4 linked regions of the Homo sapiens genome follow. The protein of the gene in region 4 interacts with the protein of the main gene of each other region in a pairwise test. Each region holds a gene or a part of one and is shown on either strand. Other genes may lie near its edges.

Region 1 (5,078 bases), on a different chromosome or scaffold from region 4:
TGTATACATGAAATCATCTCTTGATTACTTATAATTCCTGATACAGCCTACACACAGCTTCATTTGTGTCCATTCAACATAGTTATGAGTTTTGGAACTCTGTGGATATTTTCTCTGAATATTTTTGATTTATACTTTGTTCAATAAAGACCTGTAAACCCCACAGATACGGAGGAGTGACCGTATATTTATAGTATGAAAGATGATGTGTTGATATGTGTCCCCATGGAGATGAGACTAACAAGGCCTATGACTCTACAAATGTTTCATCGTGGAATGACTCTGCCAGCTTTCCAGGTCTGCAGAGAGTAACAATGTCACTTGTTCATGTGATTCCCGATCCTTGGAACCTCCTATGTGCTGCATCTTTGGATGGAAATTGGAGTCCCAGAGACAAATGAGGCTCCACACTGCTTCCAGAAGCTCAGAGTCCAGAGGTGAGAACCCGGTGGAGAACAGATGGGATTATATGGACATGGTACTGATAACACCGGAAGCCTTAGGCAAGAAAAGAGTCCCATTACCTAAACCATGAGGGCAGACATGTTTATTTGAAGGAGGGAAAACTACATTGAAATTATTTTAAAAAATATATAAGTTTTACTGCTGACAGAAGGCTGAAAGCTAGTCTGAGGGGAGGTGGAACAGCATGAGGGAAGGTGGAACAGCACGTGTCTAAGTGCCGTGTTAAGAGGGAGCCTCTTGTATGTTTGGAATTGTGAGTTCCTCAGTGTGATTGCAGCCTCAAGTAGACTAGGAAGTAAGCCAGTTAGGTTGGAGAGGTGGGCAGGGGTCAAGTGAAATGGAGAATTGTGGGCTAAGCAAAGGAGTGTGTTTTCTCTCCAGCAGGCAGTGGGGACCTTAGACATTTGTAAGCAAGGGAGAGGCACGTTCAGATTTGTGGTGTGAGGAAGAGCGATGCCCTAAGATGCAGACTCACGCCTTCAGATTCCAGCTGCTGGTACATTGGAGCTGGCAACCCAGTTTTGAGACAGGGCTGTTGTCTCCCTAGAAGATCCCCTCAAGGCCTGACTGTGGTGCTCATGGGCAGGAGACAACTTTGGATCAGGGCTCAGCATTTGGAAGTTCCGTGTACACGATGATATCTGTTGGGGGTGTCTTGGGCCTCTGAGAAGGGCGAGTGATTTTTCTCTGTGTGAAAACGCAGTGATTCAACTGTGCATATGTCACCTCCTGAGGGTCTTGTTCATCAGAGTCCTGGAGAGAGGGAAATGCTGAGTGAGGGAGGGTGCTCACATTTTCCAGGACTCTTTGGGAATAACACTAGCCACGAGGCTGGGCCGAGGAGCACCTACCTCCCTGTTCACTGTTCTGTTCCCTGCAGGCTCTTGGTCCATTACAACAGCATCTGTAGAAGACGGAAGTCAACAAAACAGCTCAGAGGGCACTTCTGGGCCCTCATTTCATAAGCAGATACCAACATACAGGGGGAGACCATAGGAGCCTGAGGTCCCTCAGTTGCCAACAGCAGACTCAGACATTCTATCTCTCTGAGCTCAAGGACCCATCCCATGAATAGCTCTGAGTTCCCATCCCATTGATTCTGTCTCCCACTTTCTGCCTGTCATGGAACCTTCTCCTGGATGTGAGTGGCTGCAGGGGACATGAGGATACAGTTCAGAATCAGGCAATGGTCTGTGAGCTGAAGGCAGGGACAGGGAGTCTGGTGCTCTCTCTAGAAAGTCCTCCCTCTGTGGCTGCTGCCTTGGGCCAGGGACCATCCTGTCTGTGAGGAACACACACCTGAGTGCTCCCATCCTGCTTCCCCACATGGCCCTGAGCTCTCTGGCCTCTGCTTCGTGAGACTTACTTTTTTTGTTGCAGCACCAGCGATGAAGGAGAAAGAAGAGGAGGAGGATGAAGAGGATGATGACCACTGAGGTCCCAATCAGAACATGCAGGTGTCTGGGGTTACCTGGAAGAAGAGGAGACACCAATAAGAAGCTAATCATAGCAGTTCCTCTTTATGAATTGTCTCACATTTCTTGATTGACAGGTAACCACATACAACACCCCTTTAGGACAAGCACCCAGATGGAGGGAGACCCAGCTTTCTCCTGCTTTCTCAGTTATAGCTCTCATAGTAACCATAGAACGTGTTGAGGATACAACTACTTTAGTTGAGATGTTTGACCCCTTCAAACCTCACATTGAAATTTCACCCCCACTGTGGGAGGTTGGGCCTCTTGAGAGGTGTTTGGGTCATGGAGGTGGATCCATCATGAACAGACCAATGCTGTCCCAAGGAGACGGGGTTAGCAAGTTCCCCTTCTATTAGTTCCTGGAGAGCTGGTTGTTCAAAAGAGCTTGGAAGCTCCATCGCTCCCCCTCCCCCTTGCTCCCTCTCTTGCCGTGTGATCTCTGTGGTCTCTGCACAGACAGACCCTCCTTCCCTTCTGCCAGAGTGGGAGCAGCCTGAGGCCGTCACGAGAAATAGATGCTGGTGCCACGCTTCCAGTACAGCCTGCAGAACTGTGAGGCAAACCAATCTCTTTTCTCTAGAAGTTACCCAGGCTCAAGTGTTCCTTTAGAGCAACAAAAATGGACTAAGACAGCAACGTCCTGAGATCAGGAGGAACGTCTCAGAACAGCCTGGGCTGTCTTCCTGTTCTTCCTGGAGGAGGACGTCATGCAGTGCTTTAGCTGAGTGCTTCCTGTGGCTCCACAGTACAAAACCCAGGCTGGGCTGCTCTCTGGCTTCCCCCAGCTACACTGCAAATGGGGTGACTCCATATGTCCCGAGTAGCTTTTCTGAGCCTTGAGGGACTGGCTCACATTGAAATGTAGGTTTCTGTTGTCACTCGCTGCTTATCTGTTAGTAATGAACCTGCCTGTGTAATGTATTCTCTGTGTGTTCTGTCTCCCTGGAGTGACGGTGAGTGATAGGAATTGGCATAAGCCCAGGTGCAGTCCAGGAGGTATTTAGAGTCTTCTCTGGGAAGACTGCACTGGGATTGATACACAGCGAATGTGCTTTAGGATTTCTACATCCACAGCATTCTTGAATCAAACAACTTGCATTCTCCAAGAAAAGGAAACAAAAGTGAAATCAAGATAAAAAAAGCTAAGTAGAATTCTCTTATGTCAAATGGCCAGGAAATAGTGTTGAAGCCCGTGTGAAACGTGCTACTCTTTGTGATCTCGGGAGACACATGTTAGGCTGCTGTTCTACCCGAGAGGCTGGGGGAAGGACCACCCCCTCGGCCATCTATTGCTTCAATACCACCTGTCCTCCTGTGAATTAGTAGGAAAGGGGAGCAGGAGCTAGTGCTGGCACTGATCTCTGATTCCAAGATCTGGACTCACTCCAAGGAGTATCAATGTTTACCTCCCCATAGCCTATCTGAATCTCCACAGGTGATTGGAAGTAGGGGTGAGGTGGGGGATTTGGGTGAGTGGGCAAGTTTTTTGTTGCGATGAACAGAGCACTTTCTCTATTCCACGATCTGTGCTGGAGGATTCTGAGGGCTTTCACATTTTCTATGTGATCTCATTCTCACAGAAAGCCAAATAGGGAAGAGGTTTTAAGCTCATTGCCTAATGGATAAGATAAAGGATCAAAGAAGTAATTATAGAGAAATAGAAAAACGATGATTGGAATTCAGGTGCCTTTGTCATTCGTGTGTGTTTTATTATATTTATGTATTTCTTATTTTTATTTTTTGAGATAGAGTCTCCTTGTGTCCCCCAGGCTGGAGTGCAGTGATGCAATCTCCACTCACTGCAACCTCCACCTACTGGGTTGAAGTCATTCTCCTGCTTCATCCTCCAGAATAGGAGCTGGGATTACAGGGATGCACCATCGTGCTCGGCTAATTTTTGTATTTTTAGTAGAGATAGGGTTTCACCACGTTGGCCAGGCTGGTCTGGAACTCCTGACTTCATGGAATCCACCCACCTTGGCCTCCTGCAGTGCTAGGTTACAGGCGTGAGCCACTGTTCACAGACTTGTATATTATGCTATAATAAGTCTCTTCATTTCCACCACCACTCATATATCTGTCACTCCTTTGCCAGGTATTGATTTATGTGTAGGATGAATAAATCTCAGAAAGAAATTAATTAAGCGAGGATTAAACAAGTAGGAAAATCAAACCCAGTAAGCGTTTCCAGTCAATGATTCTACCTCACAAACATATCTTATATCCATCTACTTCATTCATTTAGTGTCTAAATCAGCACCACATTTCACCAGTGGGGTGGCAATTGCCTTTTCCACGGTCTCCTAGATTCCAGTTATGCAACTGAGCCTCCCTTATTTTCATGTCAGTCATATTAATCATGTAGGGATTCCTGGTTACCCCGAGGTGAATCCAATGGCTGTGAGTGTCAAACACACACTCCTTGTTGCTCCTTAGTTTCCTGTGTACCCAGTGTGCTCTCCGTCTCTCTACAGTCGTCTTGTCATTCTCCCCACATCATTCCCAGCATTTGAGGCAGAGCCTCTTCCTTCCACATCAGATTGTTTTCACCTTTGTGCCTTCACGGCTGACAGCTGTGTGTGCAAAATCCTTCCGCCAATCTTTCAGGGGTTCAATCCGTGTTTTTCATTAATGTCACAAATATCTGAATAGTGAGACCTTCTTTGTCACCTGAAATCATACACTCAGCATTATCTATTATTGATTTTGAATTCTGGCTGGGCACAGTGGCTCACGCCTGTAGTCCCATTACTTTGGCATGCTGAGACGGTCGGATCACTTGAGGTTGGGAGTTTCAGACAAGCTTGGCCAACGTGGTGAAACATCCTCTCTACAAAAAATATACAAAAAGAATTAGCCGGGCACGGTGGCAGTTGCCTGTAATCCCAGCTACTCGAGAGGCGGAGGCAGGAGAATCACTTGAATCCAGGAGACGCAGGTTGCAGTGAGCCAAGATCGTGACACTGCACTGTAGCCTGGAAGACAGAGGGCGACTCTGTCTCAATAAACAAAAGAACAAACAAAAAATAGATTTCATGCACAGATGCTTCCCAATGGATCATTCATTTATAGATCCACTTGTGCATTCATTTTCTGCCCTCCCATTTAACCATCTGCAATATCAGTGTCCCAAGG
Region 2 (4,788 bases), on a different chromosome or scaffold from region 4:
GAGAGGTTAAGTGACTTGCCCAAAGTCACACAGTTACCAAAAAGCAGAGACAGGGTTTGAACTCAGGCATTCTGATGCCAGAGCCCAGGCTCTCGATATTGCCTTTCATTTTCCTCCAGGAAAGGATTTACATGAGATGGCAGGTGGCTGGGGAAGCAGTGAGTACACACTCACGTTGTGAAGGCAGGGAGACTTGTGGGGGACTTGCTGGGAAGCTGAAGAGCTCAGGAGGATGAGGAGAGGGAGTGGACGGTTTAAAAAAGACAGTGTGAGAACAAGAGCCCTGAGCCAGAGGAGAAAATGACAGCCCTCTCCTCCCTCTGATTTCTGAGAGGTGTTCCTGCCCCCAGGAGTGAGGACACTGTCTTTCTCCTGTGTCAGGCTATTTCCCCATGGAAAGGAACTATATCTCCCTGATGGCCCTCACGGATGGCCAGGCCCCACCTTCCCTTTGTGGGCTTGGCACTGCCTTCCTTTCTCCACAGATCCTTTAGTTGCTTTAGTTGAGCTGCTCCTCTAGCAGCAGCTCCAGCCCAGGCAGCTCCTTGGGGCCAAGCCCTTTTCCAAGGGTCAGAAGCTGTGGGCAGGGCCAGGCTGAGGCCTCTCCTGATCCTGTCCCCCTGTCCCTGGACCTCACTCCCACAGGCCATGAAATTATTCACTGCGATCCGGGATGCCCTCATCACTCGCCTCAGAAACCTTCCCTGGATGAATGAGGAGACCCAGAACATGGCCCAGGACAAGGTCAGGCCAGGCGTCCTGGCTGGTGTGGGAGCCTGTGCAGGGAATGGAGTATTGGAACAAGCGAGATGGGGATTGGAAGCAAATGCCAAAGGCCCCCCCAGGCACATGCTAAGTAGGGAAGCCACTGGGCTGTATACTCACACTGGCAACAATGTGAGAGGCTGGGACAGGGCAACGAGTGGGAGAAATTTCCTCTGGTAGACTCGGAGAGTATTCCTAGCCTCTTCTGTGTCTCTCTCCAGGTTGCTCAACTGCAGGTGGAGATGGGGGCTTCAGAATGGGCCCTGAAGCCAGAGCTGGCCCGACAAGAATACAACGATGTGGGTCCCTGTGTTTTCCAGCTCCTTTTCAGTCCTTGACTTCTCGTCACTTCTCTGACCCTCCTAAGTCTTTGTTGGACAATCAGTTTTCCCTGGGTGACTTAGCTCTGTCCTTACTCTGGTGCTGGCTGGGGTTGATGGGGAAATATCCACACTGTACGTCTTGCTGGCAGAAGAACAGAATCTTTTCAGGTCCCAACGCATGTGCCAACACACATGCATGCATCCTGTGACTTGTCTGGGCGTGTTCATCTGTGTGCTGATATGTGTAAAGCCTGGGTGTGCTGTGTAGTGATGCCATTGGGCTGCTCTCTCCTAATCCCTGGATGCCTGCCTGTCAGGGCTTGCCTGTTTGGGGTCAAATGGTCCCATTGGTGTTTGTCAGCGTGCATCTATAGAAGTCTCTGTGTGCCCAAGTCACCTCCTGCCTCTTCCCCAGATACAGCTTGGATCGAGCTTCCTGCAGTCTGTCCTGAGCTGTGTCCGGTCCCTCCGAGCTAGAATTGTCCAGAGCTTCTTGCAGCCTCACCCCCAACACAGGTATGACAGCAGGGGAGACACAGGCACTCCATCCCAGAGAGACCCATCCATGATTCACAGGAAAGGAAGCCAGGGCTCAGGGCAGGCAGCATGAACAGTAATGGTAGTTGGGAGGGACTGTGTAGGTCTCAGGGTGGCAGGGCAATACGTGGTGGGGGCTGGAGTTCACATGTCCTCTTCCCACAGGTGGAAGGTGTCCCCTTGGGACGTCAATGCTTACTATTCGGTATCTGACCATGTGGTAGTCTTTCCAGCTGGACTCCTCCAACCCCCATTCTTCCACCCTGGCTATCCCAGGTATGGGTCACTCTGTAAGGGTAGGTAGGGAGTTTCCCAAGAGGGGCCGACAGGTGTTATGATGGATGGGACTTACGGTTGGAGAATTGGGGTCACAAATGCTGAGAGATTCTGGGGGTCAAATAAGCCCTTGTCTCCCTAGAGCCGTGAACTTTGGCGCTGCTGGCAGCATCATGGCCCACGAGCTGTTGCACATCTTCTACCAGCTCTGTGGGTAACAGGGGCCACTGGGAGGTGGGATAATAGGGAACCTAAGGGAAGACCACAAGGGAGGCCTGGAGGGGAAAGGGAGGTTATTTGAGGGTTTGAGGTGGGGCAGTCCTGGGAACTTTGCCATGCTCCTGGGAGCTGATTCAGTCTGTGGTACCACCCACATCCTCACCTAGGCAGCACCAACCCTATGTTCTCTTGCTGTATGTTCTCTTGTCCCATTTTCAACAGTACTGCCTGGGGGCTGCCTCGCCTGTGACAACCATGCCCTCCAGGAAGCTCACCTGTGCCTGAAGCGCCATTATGCTGCCTTTCCATTACCTAGCAGAACCTCCTTCAATGACTCCCTCACATTCTTAGAGAATGCTGCAGACGTTGGGGGGCTAGCCATCGCGCTGCAGGTATGCAAGTGTCAAGGGCCACAGTTTATGTGTACTGGCAGACTAGAAAACATGTCCTCAAGTTTTCCTTCCACCATTCCTGACACAAGTACAGTTGCATGGCTTTCTGCCCTTCGCATCCCCACTGAATAGACGGCAACTTGGGGATCCCCCTCCTACCCCAGAGATCCTCCATTTTAGGACATCTATAGGTCTTCTGGGAAGTACTCTTTCTTCTGGCTCAGATCAACTAGTCAGTGCAGAACCAGTGAGCAAGGGCCATGGGTTTTGGGTACTGTGTGGAGGGACTTTCAAATGGCCACAGGTCTAGAGCCTGATGGCCCTTCTCTACCCACCCCTACCCAGGCATACAGCAAGAGGCTGTTACGGCACCATGGGGAGACTGTCCTGCCCAGCCTGGACCTCAGCCCCCAGCAGATCTTCTTTCGAAGCTATGCCCAGGTAGGCAGCGGCCACCTCCCGCCACAGCTTGCTTTATGTCAGTTGAACGCCTTATTACTGAAGCTCATGGAAGTCCCCTCTTCAGACACTCCGTCAAATACCCCAAACCCTCTTCTGCAGATGTCCTCACTGTTATCTTTTCTCTTCCCTCCCTACCCCTTGGAATCACCCCTCAGATGACTACAGGTTCTTCTACCTAGTTCAGCACCCCCACAACTCAAAAGGTAGAAAAAACTCTATTCCCAAGTTCCTCCAGGAGAGGAGGAGACCAACTTTTTTTTCCTCTCATACCCCCAAAATACAGATGCCTTAAAAATGAGCCTGTGGTTGGGCACAGTGGCTCACACCTGTAATCCTGGCACTCTAGGAGGCCGAGGTGGGCGGATCACTTGAGATCAGGAGTTTAAGACCAGCCTGGCCAATATGGTGAAACCCCGTCTCTACTAAAAATACAAAACTTAGCTGGGCTTGGTGGCGGGCGCCTGTAATCCCAGCTACTTGAGAGGCTGAGGCACGAGAATCGCTTGAACCTGGGAGGCGGAGGTTGCAGTGAGCCAAGATCATGCCACTGCACTCCAGGCTGGGTGGTAGAGCAAGACTCAGTCTCACAAAAAAAAAAAAAAAGCCTGCGACAGGCTGACTGTGTGCCACATTCCTCTTCAGACACCTGACCTTAGGTGTGGCGCCCACTTGACATCACCTCCTTAAGCACCCTGTACTCCCTCAACAGACTCAGGTGCCAGGTCTTCAACACGCTTAGATTAGACTTCACCCCAGAGCTCCTGCGCTAGACCCTGCCTCTCTGTCATTGATAAATGGTATCATTACACAGCCCAGGCCCTCCTCCTGGACTCCTATTGCCAGATTAAATGAACTATACATTTCAAATGCTCCATGTGGCCCTTGGGGCACTTGATCCCCTGGTTCCCCTCTTTGTCTGCTGTCCCTGATCACCCCTTGTCACCGGGTCAGCTTTGTCCTGTGGACCCTCCCCCTTCAATGACCTCTCTTCCTGCTCAGGTGATGTGTAGGAAGCCCAGCCCCCAGGACTCTCACGACACTCACAGCCCTCCACACCTCCGAGTCCACGGGCCCCTCAGCAGCACCCCAGCCTTTGCCAGGTATTTCCGCTGTGCACGTGGTGCTCTCTTGAACCCCTCCAGCCGCTGCCAGCTCTGGTAACTTGGTTACCAAAGATGCCACAGCACAGAAATATCGACCAACACCTCCCTGGTCACATCCATGGAATCAGAGCAAGATTTCCTTTCTGCTTCTGTTCCAAAAATAAAAGCTGGCACTTGGCTTCCGCTTGTCTCTTAATGACTTGTTCCTGCTATGTTCTATGCCTGGAAGTCATTAACTGTACGGGAGAAAAATACCCTGAAGTTAGAAAAGATAAGAGGGAGAAATGCCAAAAATGTTTCATGGACACAAGAAAAGGAAAGAATCAACAATTGGTGACCTGGTGGGTTTGAAGGCCACCCAGTGGACCAAAGATTGGACAATAAAGCAGTCTAGTTGGAGACGAGAAGGGCTTGGATTAAGTATCGGAAAGCTGCTCCCAATTGTTCTCAGGATTTTATCGTTATTTTATTGTCATTGCCTCCTGCCTCTAATCTGCTGTCCTGAACAAAACCAGGAGAGGTGTGGGAGAGAAGGATGTGGGTCTGCTGTCTCTGGCCCTGGGAGATGAAACTCCGAACCTGGAGAGGCAGTCAGTTAGCACTGATGGCAACTGGTATCTCTGCTGCTGAACCTTGAGATACAGTGATGGTGATCAGAGGCAGAGAGCCATGCCTGCATCTCCTTTGGGAGTTGTGACCTGGAGCCCAGGA
Region 3 (7,038 bases), 3.8 Mb from region 4:
TTCAGGGGTGGAACAGAAAGTTCTGGGTGATAAGTGCAGGAATCTATGGAAATGCTACGCTGAGTGGAGTAAAAGTAACTAGTTTTGGAGTTCTTGACTTTTTCTTCCTAGAGTTTTAGATTTGCTGATAAGAGAGGAGGAAGGGACATAGAAAACTCAGATGACCCAAGTGGCAAGCATTTCTTAAATATTTCAGACCCATAAAGGTACAAATTATACTCTAACTCAACCTTATATGCCCTATCCAGCTCAAATACTATTGACATTCGCTAGGTACCATTTCGTGTAGGAGCAAGGGTCACTCTAGAATAAACTTAGATTCTCACAGTGAGATACAGAATCCCTAAAGGTACAGGAGCGATGGCTTGGAAAGAGCACAGTTGGATGACGAGAGTCCCAGCTTTATTTTCAGATTCCAGTGTGGCGAGAAGACGGGAAAATGAGCAACTCTTCTTAAGAAAAAGGAGATAGGGAAATGGCGCTTTGGGGAAAGAATTGAGTTCCATCTGAGGAGGGAAAGCAGCAGGAATCTGAGCAGGTTTTGGGTAACAGGCAGTTTATTGGGTAATGATGTTTTCAGAGTACACAAGGAAGAGGTTTGAAAGGACCAACAGAAGGGGAAGGCTGGGTGGGTCGAGGGGAAACAGCACAGAACCTGGGAGAGACAGTGTGTGAGAAGATGAGTAAGCAAGCGTCCTGTTCACAGCATGAAGTACCAGCTTTTGCAGAGACAGGAGGCAGGGTGGGAAGAAACAGCCCAGGGAATTCAAGGACAACCTGCCATGGGGTTTCACTGTATGCCTTTGTTTCATAGAAAGGATTTCACCACAAGGAGTTGATGAGTCAAAGATTCAGGTGCAAGTGATTTATTAAAATAGTGCTCTTAGACGAAACCAGTTAGGGGGTAGAGAAAGCCAGAGTGATGGGTAGATTAGGAATATAAACCAGGTGAGCCAATAATAGGAAAAGCATGGTTTGCTGGGGCTTCCAGGAAATAAGCTTCTCTCCTTAATAAGAAGCGCTGGTGAAGCTCCAGTTCTTTTCGTCTGGGTTTAGCGGTGTGTGAGGTCAGGCCTGAAACATCTACAGCCACTTCATTATCACGAGGGAAGCTAGGTTGTGTATAAGGTAAACCCACAGGAGGCAAAGCAGAGACGTGAAACCTAGTGACATACGTCCTGGGTAGAGCTGGCCAGAGGCTCCTAGAAGCCTCAGTTATGTTTCTCAGAAGATTCCCTTTGTTGTCTAAGCCAGTTCCAGGATGTTGCTCTTATTGCTTGTAACAGAAATCTAAATTCCCAAACACTTTATTTTAATAATGCTGTCATATTTATCTAAATGTTCTTTAATCTGGGAATTGAGAGTAATCAAAAATGACTAATGACATCAAATATTTACGTTTAGCTTCTAACACAGCTGAAATATTTCATAGCAGTACAATGAAATGAGAGAATTTCCTTTCTCTCATTTTCACTGAAATTTTCTCTTCCTTTCACTGGAAAGGAAGGAATTATACATGCACAATATCTCTTCTAATTTATGTCTTCTGATCTTGGAGTTAGTCTCCTTAAAATTTGAGTGTGAGGAGACCTAGGCCCTCCAAACCAATGTTCCCTATTGAATTTAGCGTTTTATTTTATATGCAAAACATTATATCCTAAGTGTGCTTTGTAGATTACATTTCTAATTCCTGTTCACTCTTGTGCTTTTAGTGTTGCATGCTCTGACATAGTTCTGCAAGCTGTCTTTGAAAAGCTTTTTACCTCTTCTTTTTACTGTACTTTTGTCTTCCCTGTGAATTCCAGAGACGTGACTGCAGAAATAGATGACTGAATACTAAGTATGTATAGGTTCTATTTTCCCACTTTTATTTACGTTTCTGAGGATTCCAAACACGTTTGTTGTTCTTGAGGCATTTCTTCTAGAGTTATCTTCTTACAGTCTTTTTTATTAAGGTAACTCCAGTTCAATTCTTACCCCTTAGTTCCTCCCCACCCCACCACAATTTTCCTCCCCTGCCCCCAATTATTTCAATTGTCCTTGTCTCTTATATTCCTATTTTCTTCCGTAGGCTAATTTGAGAGACTGCATTGTTTCTCTTTCCCTTTTGGAAGTTGAGGGTGGCCCGTGGTAGTTTTAATCTGCTTGGCAAATTCTTGTAATCTTTTCTCATAAGGATTCTACCCCTTTCTCCCTCAACTCAAGCAGCCTCAAGGTCATCTTGCCTCCTCCTTTCTTCTTGGAACCAAGCAGCATGCTTTACTTTTCACTTCTTCCTGCTTGCTACCTTAACTCCTCTATTGTTTCTCTTCTGCTTCTAAATTGGTTTCATCCGAGTGACTCGAGTGACTCGCATTTACCAAGTATTGCCTATGAGCTCTGTGGTTTGTGTGCTGCCTGTACAATATAAAAGGTAATCCACATAACTGAGCTGAGGTAGTGGGTTGATATTCTCATTTTAGAAGAAAGTTGAGATATGCTATAGTTTAGGAAATAAGACAAGTAATCTAGATTTGATTTCTGTGTTGCTATTTATATTAGTAATCTAATTCACACAAGAATGTATACTTGTGAGTTACATAGATCTGATTTTTATAGTAGGGAAATGAATATTAACATGAAGATTAAACAGTCTGACTTTAAAATGGTATATAAATGAGTTTGAAAGAGAAAATACCTGATTTCATTTTCTGTTCTGTTGTAGTAGGAGGGTTAGTCTTTCGATAACAGGTCTGAAATAGCATGATACCTGGAAACCATGATTACTGGAAACTGTAAATATTTTACCATCCAGGGTTCAACCTCCTACCCCTTATTCTCCTGACAGTACGCTGAGACAAACATTTTATTAACTAACATCTCTCTCAACATTTTCCCCTGCTAATTGCATTTTGATTGGTTCAAATTCCGTGTGGGGATTCCTTGATTCTGACAGTACAAGACATTCAGTTCTCTTCAAGTCATGTAATCGACTTTTTTGAATTAGTTTTCAGTTTCATTTTGTTTTCCCTAATTCAAGTTGGGAACACTTCATTTTCCCCAATTCAAGTTGGGAACACTTCCTTGGTATTTCCTTGCTACATGGACTTTAGCAAATGCTACTTTACTCTCCTTCCAGCTACTCAGGAGGCTGAGGCAGGAGAATCGCTTGAACCCGGGAGGCGGAGGTTACAGTGAGCCTTTTCCTAGTTTTACTGTTGGAAGCCTAACTCACAGGAGAGATTATGCAATACAGTCCTGAAGTCAAGGGAGGAGAGGTAGGAAGGGAGAGGGGAAAAGAAGTTCCTTGAGGGCATTTACTAGAAATGCCTCCTGGTGCTGCCTTTTCTGTTCTGGGCTAGCTGTCTCCTTGAAAACAGCACACACTAATAGGAAATTTAAAAAAAATCCTGGACTCGGTATGCTCTGTTGTCTTTTGTGGAGAAGTCAAAGCACCTTCTTTTTCTTCTCCACCCATGCCCCATCTCTTTGTTGCTTGTTTAGGCAAAAAAGTAAAATATTTCTTCCCCTTATTTGGCATTCAACTGCTTAATTCAGTTATGTCTTGGTTCTGAGTTTTCTGTATCAACTTTTCCTACAATGTGGAAACTTTAGATCAACAGATTCAATTCTGTCTTCATTTTAGAAAAGTTTTCTTACATTGTATTTATGTATCAACTCCTTGATTTGATGAGTTCTTGACTTCAGGGGCCAATATCAATTATCCTAATACTGTGTCATTTATGTGCTATAATGTAACCTCATCTAATTGCATTCAATTTATGTTCTATAGCTCAACCTCATCTAGTGCATTCATCTCTTTCATCTGAATTCATGAAGATATCACAAATCTTCCTCTACTTTGGCTTTCAGTGATATCACTTCTGTACTTTGCTAGCTCTACATTCTTATTAGTTATCTCTAGAAATTTTAGTCCATATTTTGTTTCCTCATATCTACAATCCTCTTCTCATCCTATCATTTTGTTTAGCTTGTTTTTGAGTACTTGTTTTGTTGTGTACATATGCTGGTCATTAATTTCTAATATAAAACATATAATTATTTTGTATATTTTTTTCTAGAGGGTATAGACCTAATTTAAGTGAAGTTTTCCTTTCTGTTCTTTGAACTGTTTTATTCCAGGTTGGGCTTTATTTTTTGGTCACTTGCATGCCATTCCTGTACCCCACCTATTTTGGATTATAGTGTATATTATGTAGCATGTCAGTTTTTTATTTTGCCCAGTTAGTGGCCAGGTAATTAAATCAGTTCTGACATAGTAGGTACGTGATGGGCTCTTGATTTTTTTTTCTCATTTTGTCTGAGACCTATAATCCATTATTGCAACCACCATCGCCACCACCTCACAGCAGGTGACTCTGGTGGTTGGGTATTTTGTGTTCTCTCATTTGCTTAGGCTGAGTTATTGGCAGGGGTGGAAATAAACTTTTTGTTAGATAATTGAACTGACTCTCATTTTTGGACCTACTGAATATCACATTCCAATGTTTATATCATTTAGTTGGTGGTGTGTATACGCGTGTGTAGTGTTCTAAAGGGGAATGCACTGGCGTTTTGAGTGGCTTCTCTCTGTTCAATGTATCATTGTATAAGCTATGCTCCCATTGTCATGTCAACGCCATTGTTTATGTTCCCATTTGTTTCCTACTCCTTCCCAGTCAAGAAAGAAAGAAGAAAGATTTCTCTCCAAATTTAGGCATTGTGTTACTTTCCTCAGGCTCCTTTAACAAACTACCACAAATATGGTGGCTTAAATTAAGAAAAACATATCCTCTCAGTTCTGAAGGCTAGAAGTCCAAAATCAAGGTGTTGGCAGGCCCACACTTCTGAAGATTCTAGGGGAGAATCCTTCCTTGTTCTGCCAACTTCTGGCGACTCCTGGTGTTCCTTGTCTTGTGTCAATATAAGTTCAGTCTCTGCCACCGTCTGTGTCTCCTTTCATACCTCTCATAGGACTTAAGACACAGCCTAATCCAGTATGATTTCATATCAGTCTTCACCTTAATTACATCTACAAAGACCTATTTTCAAATAAGCTCCCATTCTGAGGTTCTAGGTGGATGTGAAATTTTGAAGAACAACCAGTCGATCCACTACAAATATATTAGAAAGGACTTTCAGGGCTTCAGCAACACACCACAAATCTACTGTGTCTGAGAGTGGGCTTCACCTCCCTACTAATGGTCTGTTCTGCAGATCGCTAATCTCTCTAGATCTGGTAAATTGCTCCTTCAGCCCAGGATGTTAGGGTACTTGTCCATGTTGCTAGTCTTGGGGGTACAGCATCATTCTTGTTAGTTTCACTTAACCCTGCCTGCAGCTGTATAAATAGTCACATTAGTAAACTATTGATGATTACCACAATATGTTGTCATATTTGCTGCCTGAGTAGGATTACTGGTTGACTTTGCATCCTTGCCTTATAATTGATTTTTACAGGGACTATTTCTAATGTTTCCCCATTGAAGATTCTGTCTGTTTTTATAGGGTTTTCAGACATATTCTTTGTCACATTAAAACCTTTTACTCATCAATGAGGAATTTGCAATTACTTTGTACATTATCTATTTTTTTCTGCATGGATTCAGATGATTGGTTTTTCAACTCTAATCTGCTTAATATGCTTTTAGCCTGGGTTTTCTAGAAAACAGAACCTGAGCAAGGATTAAAATGCTGATGCTTTATTTGGGAGGTTAAAAACTCAGGGCTGTGAGAGAGAAGGAAAGCGGAAGCAAGGCAAGGGAAGATGGGCAGCTTTGTAAACGGACAGATTACCATGCTGGCTACTGCTTCACGAGTAGTCAGAAAGACCCAGCAATTCTCTTGGTCGTAGCATTCATCAGTGTGAAGGACTTTTCTGAATGGGAATGTAGAAAACCGTGCCTCAAAGTCCTCCACGGGAGGAAAGAAGATGGGGGGATTCATCTGCCCAGATCTAGTCGTTCCTGTTGGTTAAAATTTACCTCACAGGAAATAAGCAGTTCCATATATCCCAATGTCATCATCTAGTCCCTTTAATAGCAGCTCAGAGTGCTGAGTCCCATGCCCTGCTGTATAGAGTTCCATTCCATTCCAGAAGTATCAGGAGGAACCAGACACTCCAGGTACATGCCTGGTTGGCTCAGCTCTGGGTGGTGGCCAAGGAGGAAGGCTTGGCACTCTCAGGGCAAATGACTCAACAGAGCCTCACAGTGACAGTTAAGGTCAGTGACACATTTGAGCCAAGGAAATCTGAGGCACACAGACTTTGGTCTGATACATGTGATAAATCACATTTATAAATCTTCTAATGGTAAATCTTCTTTGGATTCCTGGAGAAAACCCAACTTGGTCACTGTGGCAGCCATGAAAATGTGGGCTCACATCTGCTGTGGGGAGTGTGGGTGATTGCAGCCCCAGGTGCTGCTGTCTGGATCATCACCACCTTTGTGTCATGGCCATGACTGATCTCAGCTGATGCTCCACTGATTATTCATTCCCTCAGTGATTGAGCACAGTGGCAAGGCTAACAAGGGAATCCTCTAATGGATGACTTTGGTGCAAGGGTTCCCCAGTCATCTAACAAAACTTTCTTAGAACTGCTGCAAGCCTGACGTTCCTTTCACTCCATTTCCACCCTTCCTCTCTCCTTTAACATCACAGTTGGAAAGTTCTCCTCACTTCTGCTTTCCCCCTTTATCCTTCACAGGAATTTTCCTCACTAGCATCCCTTGAACATCGTGTCCCATCTTAGTGTCTGCTTCTTGTAGAACGTGATTAGCACAGTCATAATACATTATCTGTTTTAATATTGTTAGATTTGGTTTACAACATTTTGTCCAGATTTTCATATCTCTTTTCCTGAGTGAAATAGATTATCTTCTGTCCTCATACAGTCTTTTCCTGGGTTTAAATAATGCTGTCCTTGAAGTTTGGTAGAATTTGTCTGGAAAACCATCTGGGCCTGCTCGAGCTCTCCCTCTCTCTCCCTCTGTGCGTGTGTGTGAAGGTTTTAAACTGCTATCCAATTTCTTTAATAATTATAGGACTCTTTAAGAT
Region 4 (7,109 bases):
GATGAGACTTTCTTTTACTTTCAGACTCTTATAATACCTTACATAGTTGTAAGCCTATAGCACACTCTCAATGTATCTTAGTTCTTGATTTATTTTATCTTGATTTAGAAGGTTTCATACTTGATCTCAGAATATTCTTTTCATTAACAGAAGCCAGAATTGATAGTACCACCAAATGAGTGAAAACAACAGAAAAAAGAGTGATATTATTTGTTTTCCTGTTATAAAGTCAAAGAAGTAATAAAAATACTAACATCAGGTAGTGTCTATTAATAGAATAATGCACAGAACCTTAGAAAATCTTAATGTAACAGCAAAAGGAGAGAGAGCAAAAGGTGTCATCTCCCAGGCCAGATAAATTTTTCAGTTCATAGAATATACTTTGATTTGTTAAAAGACTGTTCCCTCAGATTAAGGATAAAGCATCTTAATAATACCTCTATGAATGGGCCCCAAAGGTTTCAGTAAACTGGCTATACGATAGTGCAATTCAGAGGGCCAAGTGTACCACTAATTCAAAAGGGAGGACTTTGCTACTGAATCCACTGGATAGAAGAGCGAATTAGGCTGATAGTTCTTATAATCTACATTATTTTGTCTGGATGGCTGTGACCTATATACAAGGTGAGTTGTACTTTTTACTTTATGGTCATTTCTAGGGCATAGAATTGCTCTTCACAAAATACATGAAAACCTTTGCATAAGTCTGTGATCTCGGTTAGGGGATGGAGGAGGGCTGGCATGATCCATCAGATTCATCAGAGGGAGTTTTTGAAAGCACATGTATGTACTACCTCTATAGGCCCTCACTGGTATTAAAGTGAGTACACGATATGCTGTAGCAGTGCTGGGGCAGGGAAAAGGTTGAAAAACAAACATAACTTGCTTGGATATTGCATGTTAAGATGCATTTAGAACCTGAATGATGTGGGAATATCCACTTCATTCTTGCAAAGGTGTGAAGTAAGGCAAGTCCCAAGAATGGTTTTGTTAGCAGAGCAAAATGGCCTTCATAAATTAAGACAGAAGCATTTCACGTGCCATATTATCAGGGAGAACTTGTAGGGACTCATGCCTTCTTTCACAGTGCCTTGAAAATAGCACAGTGAAGCACCACAAGCAACCATTTCTCAATTGTTTTCTACTTGATTAGCTTGAGTGGCTGACCCAGTTGCTGACGTTCGGAGTAGTATTGCTTGCCATCTGACAACACACAGGAACAAACTGTTGCGTATTCCAGAGTCACAGACCTATTTGAAGGGAATGAGATGCCTTTGGTGTATTGGTGATATCACTCTGATGATGTTACTTTGTTTTTCAGTTTATATGATAACCATTTAGAAAATTATTTGCTTCTAAAAAGGATTTAAAAAGAAGAGCAAGTACTATTAAAAAAAAGCAACATCAAAAATCTTATATTGGTCAGCAAATATAAGTATGTTTTAATTTTTTAATGTTACTTAAATTAGACACTTCAAACAAACTAAAGCAATTGAGTCAATAATAATTTTAAATTATATTAAAGAAATCTATTTTTGAAATAATAGTATATTTAAAAAGCCACCCTTATGTAAATGAATTCTGAAGGAATTACAAAAACAAATCTAGGTAGAGTTTGGTTCCTCATTCACAAATTCTTGACTTTCATCAGACTCGTTTAATCTAAACTTGGTTGTACCTCTAGGGAGAAACACCTCTTCCTAACTTATTCTGAATCCTTAGTGTGGAGTGAAACTGGCAGGATGAAGAAAGTCTTCAGGTAGGGTTGGGACTCTCATCTGCATTCTAGGTCAGCTGTCTGGAGATTAAGAAATTTGCAGTTAACAGGAACAGGAACAGGTTGCAAATAAGAATTTAGTTCAGGTAATATGGGAGGTGTCAGCAAGTGTCAGTGATCAGGAAAATAGGACAGCACAGGAAGAAAAACCAATATCAAAAGAAAACATATTGAATCAAGGGTTAGTGCTGGGTGCTAAGGGTCGGGGGAGAGTGGGTATTAGCCACAAAGACACAGTCAGGGAATGTAATGGAGCATTTACTGAGATCCTTTCATTTTTCAGGCACAGGAATAAATTCTTTACCTTAATCTTCCTGACTCTGCTAGGTAGGAATCATTTTATAAGAAAACAAGCAGACATTGAACAGCTTGCCCAAGAACACACAGATAGTGAGAGTCTAAATTTGATCCTAGTTCTGTCTGCCTTCAGAACTTATATTCCTTCCACTGTAACATGAGAACAAGGGTTAGGCATATGGAATTATAGAAATGCATTTAAATCTAATTACAGAGTATATAAACCTTGCTTAACAGTACTCAAAAGGCATTAGAAGATGTGGTTTAGGGTGTGCTTGAGACAGGAACAGTTGCTTTTTGATTCTCTGGGGGAGTGAGGGAGGCTTTAGGTATCTGTGCATGGAGAAATCAGGCATGGAGATAGCTACTATCCATCTGAAGTGAGAAAAAAATCTCACATTTAGGATGAACTTCTGCAATCAAATAAGGGAACTATGAGAAAAGTTTTCTGGACCCTGGGTAAGGATGGGGGTGGGGAGAATCAGAAGTTTGAGAGGTGTCAGTGCTTCCAGTCAGGTCTGCATGTTTTCGTGACTACAGATCCTATCAAGACCTCCCTGCAAATTCCCACACCCTTCAATGGCTCTAGTTCTTTATCAGTCTCCAGTCCCTTTTAGGCCTAGGAGTGTTAACAGCTTCTCGCTATTGCTAGTCCCTGGGTACGTCACCATGCCTTGTTGATTCCCTTAACCCTTGCTCCTTGGTTAAAAAACCTGTTCAAAAATCCCAGCTGAGAATGCAGCCTGATTCTTGCAAGATCCACCTGTTGGAGCAGAAGTCAGTGCAGGTCAGCAGATGAGTCACTGCAGACTCCCCTTAGCAGGCAGATGGATCCAAAGTTCAGGGGATCTGGTAGCAGGCATCAGACTGCTGGAGACAGGATATCTAGGCTGTGTCTCAACATCAGGTACTGAAGATGCCAGACTTTTGGACTCAAGTCAACATATTTGGAGTGGAGCTGATTTATATGCTTCTTGTTAATGGTCTGGTCTTAATGTGTGTGTGTGTGTGTGTGTGTGTGTGTGTGTTGCGTGGAGGGTGAGAAGTAAGGAGCAAGACTATTCGGAACAGAAGCTTGAGAGTTGAGGCCCTTGGCCCAACCCATGCTGTGCTTAACAAACATAATTCCATGCTAACTAAACCGGAAGTTCTGAACTACAGATAGGGTGTCAAGGAGATTGTGTGTGCGCGTGCATTGTGTGTGTGTGTGTGTGTGTGTGTGTGTAAGGCCCCTCCTCTCAAAGATAAATAATAATGGTCATTTATGAGTGCTTGCTGTGTCAATCACTGTTCTGAGTGCTTTGCTTACAACAACCCTTGTAATCCTGGTAACAACTACATTTAGGAGGGTACAAATATTACACCAACTTTCCAGATGAGGACGTTGGCACAGAGAGATGAAGACCGAGGTCTCACAGTGAGGAACCCTCTGGGTGGAGAATAACCCAGGTACACTGGTTTTAGAGTCCGCTGTCCCCAGCACCACACAATACTGTCTCTGTGCCTGACTCTGGACTTGCGAGGAAGTGTGTTGGTGTATATTATTCACCTTCATGCACTCAGAACCTAGCACCATGCTGGCACGAGGCATGGTTATTTGTTGATTGAATGAATGCACTTTTGCTAGGCCGCGAGGACTGTGGCAAACCCCAACAACCAACAGTTCGTAGGGTTAGATCGCAAACTTTTCTCCGTTGGACGGTGCTGCCGGGCCCACCCTTTCCTTACCACAGCCCGGCACCCAGGCAGCCCCTAAACGGAGATGGTCTGCATCTGCAGGCGCGGGGAAAGGCATAGCAGGCAGCGCCCTGAACAAATCAGAAAAACAGCCTTCGGCTCTGGAGCCCACTCCGGCACGGCCTCAGGTGCTCTACCCCGCGGGATCCAGGGAGTGGCCGCCACTCACAGTTGCCCCTCCTGTCCGCTCCGGTCCGCTCCCGCCGCCCGAGGTCCGCGACGCCCCGCCCAGTGGGTGGAGTGTGAGGCGGGGAGGTCGCTCGACTCGCCGGCGCTGTGGCCTCCCGCGGAGCCGCTCAGACTTTCCCTGCCGGCACATGGACCTGGCCCAACCCTCACAGCCAGTAGACGAGCTGGAGCTCTCGGTGCTCGAGCGGCAGCCAGAAGAGAACACGCCTCTCAATGGTGCCGACAAGGTCTTCCCTTCTTTGGACGAGGAGGTCCCCCCGGCCGAGGTAAGGTCCCCTTGGCGCTGGCCCTAACTTGCCGGCGGCGGGACAGTAGTAGGACCCGGGCCTGGCACCCGCGAGTTTCGGGTTTCCAGTCAGGCGGGGCGTCGACGGCGCCGAGCGAGGGTGGGGCGCGCTCGAGTGCTCTGAATGGAGCCGAGTCACCGCGACACCTTTCGGCCCGAGCAGTCCCCTCCCCAGCCCCTGGGGTCCTCCAACCCCTCTGACCCCCGAGGCGCTTTAGGAATCCTAGTGGTGAGGTGTGGCCGCTGCTGTCTTCAGAGAGGTATTCCGGAGATGGAAGTAGTTTTTTAAAGTTATGTAACTTTTAATTCAGTTTTTCTTTTTTCCAGTAGGGAGAATGAGAATGACAAATTGAGTATCCTCCTTCTCTCAGAATCTCTTCTGTCCTCCTCTTACCTTCACTGCCTTGCCACTTCTCTCCCTCCCCTCCACCCACCTCGCCGCAGCCCCCAGCCTTCTTCCATGCCTACCATCCGCCAAGCACTTTCTGCCTTCTCCCAGCCTGGCCATTGGATTCTGCCGGAAGAGAGATAGGGGAGAGCACAGAGGAGAGAAAGCGGTCAGAAGGGGAGAAGGGGTAGGGCTGGCGTAGAGATGGGGCGGGCGGGTTAGGGGGTCGGCGCGGGGGAGGTGAACTTGCCCTGCTCAATTGAAAGAAAATAATTTCAAAGTTCTTGTCTCGAAGGTTGAGACTTCGCCCACCTTGCTTTTACCTCCTCTCAATCCCTAAGGAAGTCCCTGGCTATTTTTAGGCCAAGCTCTTTTCTGATTCATCCCTAGCAATGATGGGAACATTATTCACTCTCATCAAAGACTTGTAAAACATCAGAGCTTTGACTTCCCAGCCATCCACCTTCTGATTAACTCCTAAGATTGGCTTGAGGTTTTCTGGGTGCACAGAACTCCCCATATAGAGCCCCGACCTGATCTTTCTAGGCCCCACTCCTCCACCCCCAACTTTTTGGCTGCCCAGCTGTTGATTTTAGGGATAAGCAGGAAATTCAAAAGTTGAAAGCATTGCTTTTGTTCTACATTGATTCCTGGAACTATTGCAAAGTCTGCTTTTATAGGTACTCTGGAGAGTAATTTGGAAACTTATTTCTGAATAAAATATGAATGCCACAGAAGAATGAAGGTTGAACAAAGATAGTCTGGTCACCAGTGCAAGTGGCCACAACTGTGAACTGGCTGTATGAGTCCTCCAGGGCGGTGTCCAGGAATGGGAGTTGGAAATACTTGCCTCAGATTAGATGGACCCGCACACCCTAAAGACTCCCTAGCTTGGGGCTGAATCCAGAAATCTGGTGACAGTTTTGCCACTAAGAAGTGTGTCCCAGAGGCAAGCCTGTCCCGTAGTGGTAATGTGTGCCTACTCGGCCTTCTGTGAGGCCTGGGAATGCCTTGTTGAAAACAGGTGGTGGGTAGAACAAGCCAAATCCATGCAGGGTTATCAGTATTCTGTAATTGTTTAGCACCTACCCTGTAGCAATGGTTCTTTAATGTTCTCATGACGTCCTTGTTAGTAAGGTATATACAGATACCCTGGACTTCTTTGTAAGTTAGCTTTGTAGGTCACCCAATAGGAGAGCTGTCCTCAGTAACAGGATGGAGTGAAGGTGAAGGGCTACAGGAGTACTTGGAGTGTGTTCAAGGAATGCCTTGAACTAATCTCATCTAATGTGTTAATCATTCTCTTTTGTCCTATAAAATAAAGTGAAGTGTATTTCAGTTAGAAAAGTCAATAAATATAGGCTCATTAAAAAGATTCAGACACTTAAGAATTTTGTGTGTTGGTCTCTTTGAACTGTATATTAAGATTTCTAATTTTGAAATGTAGCTGAAGTCCATGTATTTTCATTAACCCTGTTTAGTAACTGTCTTGTGACAAATACTTTTGATGCATAAATGCATTTAATTATCACAACTAACTTAAGAGGAAGGCGTCAGTATTCTGGTTTGTCAGATTGAAGATGCTGAGTGAAGAAATTGAGGGAGGCTCAGAGGAGTTACCAAAATCCTCAAGTTCACTCAGTGGTGCCTCTGAAGCTTGAACGTATGTTTTTTAGATCTCAAACCTTTGCTGTTTCTGTTGATTTATTCTATCTATCTATCTATCTATCTATTATCTATCAGCATTTAATTTAAATATGTTATATATAATTTATACTCATTTGTTTATAGTTGCCTAAGTTATTAATTATTACTAATTTCTATAAGTTAGGTAATTTATAATTAGGCAATTTAAGTGAGCTAGGAGTTGAGTATCACATCTGGAATGATGGAGTTGCAGGTGGATGGGTGAGGAATCGGGAACAGTTCTGGAATGATTGGGAAGAAGACATCTCTCTTCTTCCTTGGAAGAGCTGTGGTGGGAGAGTGAACAAAAGCAGTAGAAGGAACTTCTTTGCCTTTCTTGATGTGTGCTTGGCACTTGAGACAAAGGAATAGAAGCCACTGAACTCCACTTTGCCTGCTGTCACTGTAAACATGGCAATATGGCTGGGTCAAAAGTGAAAAATAAATTATGGGTAATAGAGTGAGGCTGGTTTTCTTTTATGGCTTATTACAGGGGCTCAGTTTTCAAATAGAAATCCCAGAGGCATTTTAAGAGATGGCAACATCATTTGAATAATAACAAACCAGTAAATTGATAGTTTTGAGGCAGGTAAGATTTATTTCAGGCCGGGTACAGCGGCTCACGCCTGTAATCCCAGCACTTTGGGAGGCCAAGGCAGGTGGATCATCTGAGGTTGGGAGTTCGAGACCAGCCTGACCAACATGGAGAAACCCCGTCTCTACTAAAAAAAATACAAAATTAGCCGGGT

What was found.
Region 1: the proteins of C3orf52 (region 4) and KIR2DL3 interact in binary tests that used the Homo sapiens proteins (3 or more experiments, as listed by UniProt).
Region 2: the proteins of C3orf52 (region 4) and KEL interact in binary tests that used the Homo sapiens proteins (3 or more experiments, as listed by UniProt).
Region 3: the proteins of C3orf52 (region 4) and HHLA2 interact in binary tests that used the Homo sapiens proteins (3 or more experiments, as listed by UniProt).

The regions. Positions count from the first base shown.
Region 1 is NC_000019.10:54,748,507-54,753,584, reverse strand, and holds the end of KIR2DL3 (killer cell immunoglobulin-like receptor 2DL3 precursor), read right to left. Parts: intron 1,937-5,078; coding exon 1,832-1,936; intron 1,370-1,831; coding exon 1,317-1,369; intron 1,219-1,316; coding exon 1,066-1,218; 3' UTR 533-1,065; downstream 1-532. UniProt on the Homo sapiens protein: Receptor on natural killer (NK) cells for HLA-C alleles (HLA-Cw1, HLA-Cw3 and HLA-Cw7). Inhibits the activity of NK cells thus preventing cell lysis.
Region 2 is NC_000007.14:142,940,599-142,945,386, reverse strand, and holds the end of KEL (kell blood group glycoprotein), read left to right. Parts: intron 1-645; coding exon 646-744; intron 745-986; coding exon 987-1,064; intron 1,065-1,503; coding exon 1,504-1,604; intron 1,605-1,790; coding exon 1,791-1,901; intron 1,902-2,043; coding exon 2,044-2,111; intron 2,112-2,342; coding exon 2,343-2,512; intron 2,513-2,857; coding exon 2,858-2,953; intron 2,954-3,973; coding exon 3,974-4,135; 3' UTR 4,136-4,273; downstream 4,274-4,788. UniProt on the Homo sapiens protein: Zinc endopeptidase with endothelin-3-converting enzyme activity. Cleaves EDN1, EDN2 and EDN3, with a marked preference for EDN3.
Region 3 is NC_000003.12:108,299,538-108,306,575, forward strand, and holds part of HHLA2 (HERV-H LTR-associating protein 2 isoform a precursor), read left to right. Parts: intron 1-2,947; exon of another isoform or gene 2,948-3,257; intron 3,258-7,038. UniProt on the Homo sapiens protein: Through interaction with TMIGD2, costimulates T-cells in the context of TCR-mediated activation. Enhances T-cell proliferation and cytokine production via an AKT-dependent signaling cascade.
Region 4 is NC_000003.12:112,082,280-112,089,388, forward strand, and holds the start of C3orf52 (TPA-induced transmembrane protein), read left to right. Parts: upstream 1-4,109; 5' UTR 4,110-4,128; coding exon 4,129-4,266; intron 4,267-7,109. UniProt on the Homo sapiens protein: Has a role in LIPH-mediated synthesis of 2-acyl lysophosphatidic acid (LPA). LPA is a bioactive lipid mediator involved in different biological processes, and necessary to promote hair formation and growth.